Regions from separate parts of the Homo sapiens genome. Here region 2 is linked to region 1. Evidence: fine-mapped expression QTL. A gene starts in region 1. The other region holds a variant in brackets. All regions are shown on one strand. Distances are between the middles of the regions.

Region 1 (5,205 bases):
ATACTGAGCCATGTAAAAATAGGATTCTACTGTATTTGTATTCAAAAAATAGCATCAGAAACTTCTCCATCCCCTAGTTTCAGCCAAATATGGCTCTTCCCTGCTTTAACCTTTTTTTTTTTTTTTTTTGAGACAGAGTCTCACTCTGCCACCCAGGCTGGAGTGCAGTGGCGCGATCTCGTCTCACTTCAACCTCTACCTCCCGGGTTCAAGTGATACTCCCGTCTCAGCCTCCCAAGTAGCTGGGACTACAGGTGCGTGCCACCTTGCCCAGCTAATTTTTGTATTTTTAGTAGAGACGGGGTTTCACCATATTGGCCAGGCTGATCTCGAACTCCTGACCTGGTGATCTGCCTGTCTTGGCCTCCCAAAGTGCTGGGATTACAGGCATGAGCCACCGCGACTGGCCTTGCTTTAACCAATTTAGCTTACTAGACACAAGCCCATCAGCAGTAGTCATGGATATCATCTACAGTGCTATTTTGAATACAGCTTCTAAATTCTTGAAAACAATCAAACATTAGCAATGTAAAATTAAGCTCAAGATGAGAAGCTTCAAGTTGAGATACCTGAATATGGTGATTAGAACTAAAACAAGAAACTGCCCAGGCACGGTGGGCTCACGTCTGTAATCCCAGCACTTTGGGAGATCAAGGCAGGCAGATCACTTGAAATCAGGAGTTCGAGACCAGCCTGGCCAACATGGTGAAACCCCCATCTCTATTAAAAATACAAAAATTAGCCAGGCGTGGTGGCGCGGGCCTGTAGTCCCAGCTACTCAGGAGGCTGAGGCAGGAGAATCGCTTGAACCCGGGAGGCAGAGGTTGCAGTGAGCCGAGATCACGCCACTACACACTCCAGCCTGGTGACAGAGCGGAGACTCCGTCTCAAAAAAAAAAAAAAAAAAAAAAAAGAACTAAAATAAGAAACAAGGACTTTTTTATAAAATCACCCAGTCCTGTCATCTAGCCCTATGCCAATCCGACAAACTCAGAATCAACTTCTAGGAGGAGCCTAAGAAATCCCTTTCCGTTTAAAGGTTTTAGGCAAGTTGACACAAGCCAGGTCCCCTATGCATATTGGAAATATCAAGTCTGCCCCTAGGTCAGCCTTGTTCAGTTTTGCTTAAACACCCTAAAAAAAAAAATTCTAGATGTGAGCATGTGAAAATAAGAGTGAATTAAATTCTCAGTATTCAGACGTCAATGTAATGACTAAAAATTATTAGGCAAGGAAAGAAGAGAAATCTTAAGAAAATATCCTTTAAATGCTAATTTCTCCACAACAGTAAAACAGTATATGGGTGAGTTTCAACTTCTAAGTTTTTTATTAGTTTTCTAAACACAGACTAAACATGGAATGAGTGCATCACAACGAAGCCTTCAAAGGAGTTATTCCTCAGGCTGTAACCCCTGTTTTCAGAGGACCTGAGGCTTATCTACTGCCTCCATATCCACATCTGGCCATCCCATCCTTCTGCCCTTCCCCCTCCACGTTCCCCTCCACTCGTCTGGAACAAACGATAAGTAAGTGAAATAATGACCAGCACTAAACATGACGCCAAAGTTGGCATTTACAAATGATTTTCAAAACAACTCCCCAGTGGACCTAATCAACCTAGGCAGGGCACACTATCCAAAACCTATTTGCTGGTTGTCTAAAAAGATAAAACTCATCCTCTTCAGGGAAGTCCTCTGGGAGGAAGGGCGCCTCTAGGAAGCAAGGGGGCGGCTCCAGACCCCTTTCTCAGGGACCCCCGTCTGTGTCCAAGGGATCCCGACCCGCAAGTAGCCTTGTTTCAGTGTTACATCTACAGAACTTGTCATCCCAACTTCCCAGCCCTAAGACGAGAGAGGAAGTTAAAAGGGTCCTGGGATGACAGGGGAAAGTACGACAGTCTTATCTTCTGTGCTTGGGACCCAGAAAAGAGCAATGGGCAGCCGCGACGGAGCCATTCAACCGAGCACCGCTTGGATACGGATTGTGCAGGCGAGTGGGAGATACCCACGAGAAGCGCACAAACAAGCCCGGGAATGCGAGCGAAGGCAGAGACGGGGGTGATGAAGGAATCCAGGCGCTGGCCCCGGGGTGTGCCGGGGGGGAAGAACCTCCTCAGGGCTGCAGGAGCCCACGAGTACTCGAAGCCCTATGGGGAGGCGGCGGTTAGGTAGTCCGAGCGCTCCGCGCAGTCCCGGGGCCCCGCTTGGTGGTGACGCCGGGCCCCGGGAGCGCTGGGCCAGGAGGGTCGGGACGAGGGCGGGCGACGGGCGGCGGGCGGCGGGCGGGGGCCCAGGTCCACCCGAACAAAGCCGGCGCGTGCGGGGCCTGGCTACTCACAACAAGAAGCTCATGTTGGCCGCGGGGCAGGCTGCAGGCTCGGCGGTCGCGAGGCCTCGGAGCGGCGTGGGCCAGGAAAGAAGAGGAAAGGCGAATGGAACAGGAGACAGGGAGGCGGAGGAGGAGGTGCCGAGAGCCGGCTGCTCGGTGGCCGCAACTAGTTCGGCTCAGCTAGTTCCAATGGCAGGGGGAGGGGGCGGAAGTGGGTAGCGCTCGTCTTGAATCACTCCAGGGGAGGGGAAGGAAAGGGAGGCGGGGCAGGCTCTCCGCGAGCCCCTCCCCAGCTCCCCGCCGCCCCCACCTCACGAGCTCTCGCGATAGCGGTGCAAGCCCACCCCGGCCCTCCGGCTGCGGCATGGGGACTCTCACCTTCTGGTCTCCTCTGCTGCTAGGGACGACGCCCAGCGTGTGCGCCGCGGCTGCCCGGCCCCCCTGTCCACCCGGTTAGGAGTCATGGCAGAGCTCTCGGAGCCGCTCAGCTGGGCTCCAGAGGTCAGGGAGGAAGTGGGCTTCAGCTCGGGGATGTCAAGGTCCCGCAGTGAGGGATGGAATTACCACCGGAGTTAGGCCCACCGTGAGTGTCCGGCCAAGGGCGGTGAAAGGTAATGGCATCTCTCAGTTCACCACGGAACCCAGCATGATAGGGTGGTCATCGGTGTAACCACTTAGGGGGCCAAAGCTTGTAAGCATTCTAATGCACAGAACATCCTAGAAGCTAGAAGCTATTCAGACCCACTTACAAAGGGACTTTTATTCTCACAGGGTTATGGGGCCCAGGGCAAGCCTTTATATTCTGTTTAAGAATCCTTCACATACCTTGAATATGTCACCACAGCATTACCAATTTAGGAGGGAAATACGGGTATCGAAGAGATGTCCGTCTTCTTTACTCACAACACCCATCAAATCTACAAGTTTTCAAAGAGAATCTGAGCAAAACAAATCATGTGCAGATATTAGCTCACCTTTGGCTTATCCCAAAGGGCAGAATACACTTTGAAGTAGGTGCAGATATGAAATGTATTATACTGCATATATGCACTATTATTTGGCACGTTGGTAAAGTGGTAAAAAAAAAAAAAAAAAAAAAAAAAAAAAAAAAAAAAAACGTTTTAGGCCGGGCGCAGTGGCTCATGCCTGTAATCCCAGCACTCTGGGAGGCCGAGGTGGGTGGATCACCTGAGGTCAGGAGTTCAAGACCAGCCAAAGTTCAAGACCATGGCCAAACCCCGTCTCTACTAAAAATACAAAAATTAGCCGGGCATGGTGGCACACACTTGTAATCCCAGCTACTCGGGAGGCTGAGGCAGGAGAATTGCTCCAACCCAGGAAGCAGAGGTTGCAGTGAGCCAAGATCATGCCACTACACTCCAGCCTGGGTGACAGAGTTAGACTCCGTCTCAAAAAAAAAATTTTTTAATAGAAGAAAATACTAGAATCTTGCACTATCTCAGGAACAGCAGAGGTTACTGGAATGAGAAAACTTACAGACTCAAAAGATTACCAGATCAGGATAAATAGCTAATGCATGCAGAGCTTAATACCTAGGTGATAAGTTGATAGGTTCAGCACACCACCATGGCACACACGTTTACCTATGTAACAAACCTGCACGTCCTGCACATGTATCCTGGAACTTCAAATTAAATTAAAAATTTTTTAAAAGATTCCCCAAAAAGAAGAAAGAGGAGGATTTATCTGAATGAAAATAATAGATTTATGGTATAAAACCCTGTGCTCCAAATATTGATATGGTACTGACTTACTGTATAATTCTTTTTTTTTTTTTTTTTTTTGAGACGGAGTCTCACTCTGTCACCCAGGCTGGAGTCCAGTGGTGCAACTTCTGGACTAGGCTCACTGCAACTTCTGCCTCCTGGGTTCAAACAATTCTGCCTCAGCCTCCTAAGTAGCTGGGATTACAGGCCTGTGCCACCACACCTGGCTAATTTTTGAATTTTTAGTAGAGACGGGGTTTTACTATGTTGGCCAGGCTGGTCTCAAACTCCTGACCTCGTGATCTGCCTGCCTTGGCCTCCCAATATGCTGGAATTACAGGCGTGAGCCACCACGCCCAGCCCTGTATGATTCTTGTAAGGGTCTTCTGAAAGTAAGACTTGCATTACCAGATTACTGATTATCTTTGGAAAGAGTGAGTTGACCTGTCATAGCCTCAGTTTTAGCCCATTTAAAATGGGAGCCTTCTATCATTACATGATCTCTAAAATATCTTCCAGTTCTAAAGTTCTCTCCTGCCAGGGGCATCCTTCAAATGACTGGCACACATTTCCAAACTGCTCCCTGATTTGGCTTAGGTAGCCTTAGTTTTGGTCTGACATAATTTAGATGTATCCTGTGACACTGAATAAGGGAAAACTGGCAGAGGAAAGAATCTGCAAAAATACCTTCTGAGTATTTCTTTATCATACCACTAGGAGAGTTGCCTGGAATTAACATCCAATAAAACGTAAATATACTGGTCCTAAATGTGAGGGAGGTGTCAGGTTAATAATATACAATATGATTCCAGGTTAGACTTTAAATCAAATGATGTCTGTCATATAAAATTATTCAGCATATCAAAAACATTGGGAATTTCAGAATCAAAGAGAGTTTATATTCAAATAGATATTTATAATTATCATCTCTTCTGACCAAAATCTAATAACCTTTTGTTTATGAAGCAAGATTATTAAAATTTTTGTTCTATCCAACTTTTCAAAGAATTGAAATTATACTGTAACATGTACAGAATAGAACAGAACATGAGTGGGCATATGCTCTTTAAATATTCATTTGAATAAAGACACATGCACATGTTTGTTTATTGCAGCACTATTTACCGTAGCGAAGACTTGGAACCAACCC
Region 2 (5,205 bases), 26 kb before region 1:
ATAAAAAAAGGTAGAGTGTTCTGAGTTGTTGTAACATATAAATTACTCTTAATAGTTCAACTTGTAAATACTCAAAAATAACAAGCATGCCATAAAAGCATATTCTTCACATGCACTAGCAATTGGACACGACTGTTTACTCATACTTTGGGGAAAGAGTTACTAAAAGAAAAAAACTCTTCATCCTGAAATAATCAGAAACTAAAAACCCTGGCATAGCTTTCTAACAGACTCCATGAGAAAAGCAATAAAAGAATTAAGAGAAGTAAGTGAAAAGTAACTTTAAATCTACCCCCAGAATTTAGTTATTTTTAGAGCTCCACATATGCCATCTGCCTCCCAAACATGTTTATGTACACTAAATTATCAGTTTATTGCCTGTAGTAAAATATCAAAAAAAAACTAAGAAACAAGATATACACTGAGTTAAATATCTCAGTTTGTGAAATCCACCCTTATAGACTATACTATATGCTAATTTCGAAAAAAGCATTATTTTTCTAGTAAATTGTTAAAACTTCATTTTAAATCTAAATTTTAAATTTTAAAACTTCATTCTGGCCAGGCACGGTGGCTCATGCCTGTAATTCCAACACTTTGGGAGGCTGAGACGGGTGAATTGCTCAAGCCCAGGACTTCAAGACCACCCTGGGCAACATAGGGAGACGCTGTCTCTACAAAAAATTTTAAAAATTAAGGCTGGGCGCAGTGGCTGTATTAAGGGAGGCCGAGGCGGGCGGATCACAAGGTCAGGAGATCGAGACCACGGCGAAACCCCGTCTCTACTAAAAATACAAAAAATTAGCTGGGCGCAGTGGCGGGTGCCTGTAGTCCCAGCTACTCGGGAGGCTGAGGCAGGAGAATGGCGTAAACCCAGGAGGCGGAGCTTGCAGTGAGCCAAGATCGCGCCACTGCACTCCAGCCTGGGCGACAGAGTGAGACTCCATCTCAAAAAAAAAAAAAAAATTAGCTTGGTGTGGTGACGTGTACCTGTGGTCCCAGCTACTCAGGAGGCTGAGGTAAGAGGATCATCTGAGCCCAGGAGGTGGAGGCCACAATAAGCAGTTGTTGGGCCACTGTGCTACAGACTCAGCCACAGAGCAAGACCTTATCTCCAAAAATAAAATAATAAAATTAAATTGGCCAGATGCAGTGGCTCACACCTGTAATCCTTCGGGAGGCCAAGGTGGGCAGATCACTTGAGGTCAGGAGTTGGAGATCAGCCTGGCCAACATGGGAAAATCCCTTGTCTACTAAGAACACAAAAATTAGCCGGGCGTGGTGGCACACACTTGTAATCCCAGTTACTTGGGAGGCTAATGCAGGAGAAACACTTGAACCTGGGAGGTGGAGCTTGCAGTGGGCCAAGATCACGCCACTGCACTCCAGCCTGGGTGACAGCAAGATTGTCTCAAAAAAAAAAAAAAAAAAGAAAGAAAGAAAAGAAAAAGAAGAAAAGAAATACAGGGGACAGAAATTATTTGGAAGTACCTTTACTATTATCTTGTTTATTTGGCATTAATTTTAAAAGTCCAAGAAGCTTTCATGACTCTTTTTCTTAATGATGCAATGATAGTGGGAATGCAGGGAAATGAGCACTCTCATTCCCTGGTAGAGGGAACACAATTTACAGGGCACATTGGAAAATAGGAAACTTGTGCCTGGTATATGACAATCCTGTAAAGAAGGTCTCTACAAAACTATGTGATAAAGATACAATAAATAAGGCTGAGTGCAGGGGCTCACGCCAGTAATATCGGCATTTTGGGAGGCCAAGGTGGGAGGATCACTTGAACCTAGGAGTTCAAGACAAGCCTAGGTAACATAGCAAGACCCCGTGTCTATTAAAAAAAAGTTTTTTTATTATAAAAATCCAATAAATAGGTATTCTAAACTCTTCTGTGCACAGTAGCCACCTTTTAATATTTTCCCTAAAATCTTTACAATGGAAAAACATACAACAGACTGAGGAGAATCACTCATACTCTCACCACCCGTGATGAAATTCTTGAAAATGTCAGGCCACGTGTGGTGGCTCATACCTGTAATTCCAGCACTTTGGGAGGCTGAGGCGGTGGATCACGAGGTCAAGAGTTCGAGACCAGCCTGAACAACATGGTGAAACTCCATCTCTACTAAAAATACAAAAAATTAGCCGGGCATGGTGGCACGCGCCTGTAATCCCAGCTACTCAAGAGGCTGAAGCAGGAGAATCGCTTGAACCCGGGAGGCAGAGGGTGCAGTGGGCCGAGATCACACTACTGCATTCCAGCCTAGGTGACACAGCAAGACTCCATCTCAAAAAAAAAAAAAACAAAATTCTTGAAAATGTCATTGATTAGTCAGGAAAAAAAATTGTTACTAAGAGGCACTATGCTAGGTGGTAGAGATTTAAAACAAACATTTTTTGAAAATGCCCCATCTTCAAAGAGATCATACACATGACAGTGGGTGGAGTACAATGTCTTTTTGGAAAGGACTATGATAAGGACTATAAAGGGCACTGAAATGGTATCTAACAAACTGGGAAGGGGGCACAGGCCAGGGAAAAAGTTGGCTCCTGAGCTAAAGAAATGGGGGTGGGGAGGAGAAGAATAACAGCCAGAATAACAGGAACGGCATTTACAAAGGCAGAAAGATGGAGCAAAGCAGGTTGAGAGAAATGCAAATAAAATCACTGAACACTGTGGGGGAGGGATGTTAGAGCAGGAAGGCACGGATGAGGCTGGAGTGGTAAGCAAACATCTCAGGGAGGCCTTCTATGCCTTGGAGTTTTGCAGACCACTTCCAGCCCATTCCAATATCTACCTGAAATGCCCAAGTGAACTACAGGAAGCGAGTGCACC[G/A]AAGGATTCCTACCACTTCCCCTCCATGTTAAAAACCAAGATGCTAAAGTGGAACAGCAGTGGCAGCAATGCCAAGAACAAGCAGGGGAGGCCCCCGCATCCACACAATAAAAACAGCATCTGACTAAAAACCGGAAGCTCAATTCGGCAAAATTCTTGCTGTTTTGAATAGGTGAATGCACTACACATATTTATAACTGTGGTATTGACGGCAATTTTTTTTTTTTTGAGACAGATTCTCACTCTGTTGCCCAGGCTGGGGTACAGTGGCATGATCTCAGCTCACTGCAACCTCCGCCTCCCAGGTTCAAGCGATTCTCCTGCCTCAGCCTCCCAAGTAGCTGGGATTACAGGCGAGTGCCACCATGCCTGGCTAATTATTGTATTTTTAGTAGAGACGGGGGTTTCATCATGTTGGCCAGGCTGGTCTCGAACTCCTGATCTCAGATGATCTGCCCACCTTAGCCTCCCAAAGTGCTGGGATTACAGGCATGAGCCACTGCGCCTGGCTGACAGCAATTTTTTTCTTTATATTCCTAATTTTTGATGAACACAGACTGCAATTATTTCACACATACACCCAAGAAAGTTTGTATACTCAATGCAATATCTTGCAGTGCAAGGGTCTTTAACCATCATTAGCCAGTGGACTTGGAACTGAGAGTTTAAAACAACCATTAAGGAGCACATCTATGTAACACGCTGGTCTCCAGTGCTAAGATTCTTGAGGACAGAGACCGCATCTTATTTCTTTTTTTTTTTTTCTTTTTTGAGACGGAGTCTTGCTCTGTTGCCCAGGCCGGAGTGCAGTGTCACAATCTCGGCTCACTGTAAGCTCCACCTCCTGAGTTTGCGCCATTCTCCTGCCTCAGCCTCCCAAGTAGATGGGACTACAGGCGCCCACCACCACGCCCGGCTAATTTTTTTGTATTTTTAGTAGAGACGGGGTTTCACCGTGTTAGCCAGGATGGTCTCGATCTCCTGACCTCATGATCCACCTCCCAAAATGCTGGGATTACAGGCGTGAGCCACTGCGCCCGGCACATCTTGTTTATTTCTAAACCCCTTCCTTTCTCCTCCCACCACCAGCAAGCACCTAACACTTCGCTTTTACACACAGGAGGTGTTCAATAAATGTTCATTTTATTATGCAATAATGCCATACATTTGTAAGACAGCTAAACAAAAAACTGGAATGCACAAACAGTTTATACACTGGGCTTGGGAATTTCATGAGTGGAGATAATGACAGTGTTTATACAGGACTCTGGTTTATGAAAAGCTTTCATATACATTCTGTCATTCAAGTCTCACATTAACCCAATGGAAGAAGCATTCGTTACCCTCCAGTAGGCAGAGGAAATAGAAACTAAGAAATTAAGTCATCTGCCCAAGGTCACATAGCTAGTGACAGACCAAAGACTCTGAATCTCGGATTTCCTCACTCATAGGCCACTGTTCTCTCCCATGACAATCTTCAGTTAATTAAAAAAAAAAAAAAAATGGCTGTAATCCCAGCACTTGGGAGGCCAAGGTGGACGGACTGCTTGAGCCCAGGAGTTCAAGACCACCTGGACAACATGGCAAAACCCTGTCTCTACAAAAGATACAAAAATTATCCAGGCATGGTGGCACACACCTAAAGTCCCGGCTACTCAGGAAGCTGAGGTGGAAGAATCACGAGCCCAGGAGGTTGAGGTTGCAGTGAGCTGAGAAGATACCACTGCATTCCAGCTTCGGTGACAGAGTGAGATCCTGTCACTCACACAAATAAGAAAATTATTGAAAACATATTTGCTAAGCAATGTCCTAATGTGCTGGGAAATAAAATGATGAACAAACCCTCAGTCCAGGAGGAGAAAACTTAGAATCCAGAAGGAGAAAAAAACACATTAAACAAGAAAATAATTGCAAGTGTGAAAGGACAGTACGGGGATCTACATTGAGGCTCCCTTATTGGGAATCTCTCAAAGACAGAACTGGTGTTATATTGAATCCAAGGATTTTTCTTATTCACCTTATCTCAAACCATTTAAATTAAATATACAGGCATCCACTTTGGAAGGTGCTTTCAAATCACCTAGGGATCTTATTAAAATGCATTATAATCCAATGATTAGGACCCGAAATCCTGCATTTCAAACATACTCCTAGGTGGTGCCAAAGATCCACACTTTGAGAGTCTACAGCAAACTTCTCAAGGATTATGGTTATGTAGAGACACTGATCCTCTCAATCCTGAGAGTACTTTCTGTCACCAGAGGACCAAGAGCAGTTTTTCTTCTGCTACATAAAATGACAGTGGTATTTTTCTTCCTTAATGTTAAGTGATATCAAAAAAGGCAAAGACATCACTAAC

Which allele goes with the higher level. Alleles are on the strand shown, and positions count from the first base shown. SD is a standard deviation of normalised expression in the study named.
As copies of G replace A in region 2, the expression in aorta of the gene that starts at base 2,519 in region 1 goes up (moderate effect, 0.58 SD a copy in GTEx).

What was found. PIP is the estimated chance that this variant, and not a neighbour inherited with it, causes the effect. A credible set is the group of variants that fine-mapping cannot tell apart.
Region 2: its variant is the best candidate, but not a certain one, in a credible set for the expression of MOB1B in aorta (GTEx, PIP 0.51).

The regions. Positions count from the first base shown.
Region 1 is chr4:70,899,683-70,904,887 of GRCh38, reverse strand. MOB1B (MOB kinase activator 1B) reads right to left here and starts at 2,519. Exons shown (of 6, transcript NM_173468.4): 1 at 2,338-2,519. The coding sequence starts at 2,351. LOC124900711 (a long non-coding RNA gene) reads left to right here and starts at 2,657. Exons shown (of 2, transcript XR_007058132.1): 1 at 2,657-2,939; 2 at 5,171-5,205. RefSeq lists silencers at 2,190-2,239, 2,550-2,699.
Region 2 is chr4:70,925,409-70,930,613 of GRCh38, reverse strand. All of the region lies in intron 1 of MOB1B (MOB kinase activator 1B), which reads right to left. Among named protein-coding and RNA genes, the nearest start is that of MOB1B, 26 kb to the right of the region's middle. The variant G/A (reference allele first, on the strand shown) is at 2,847.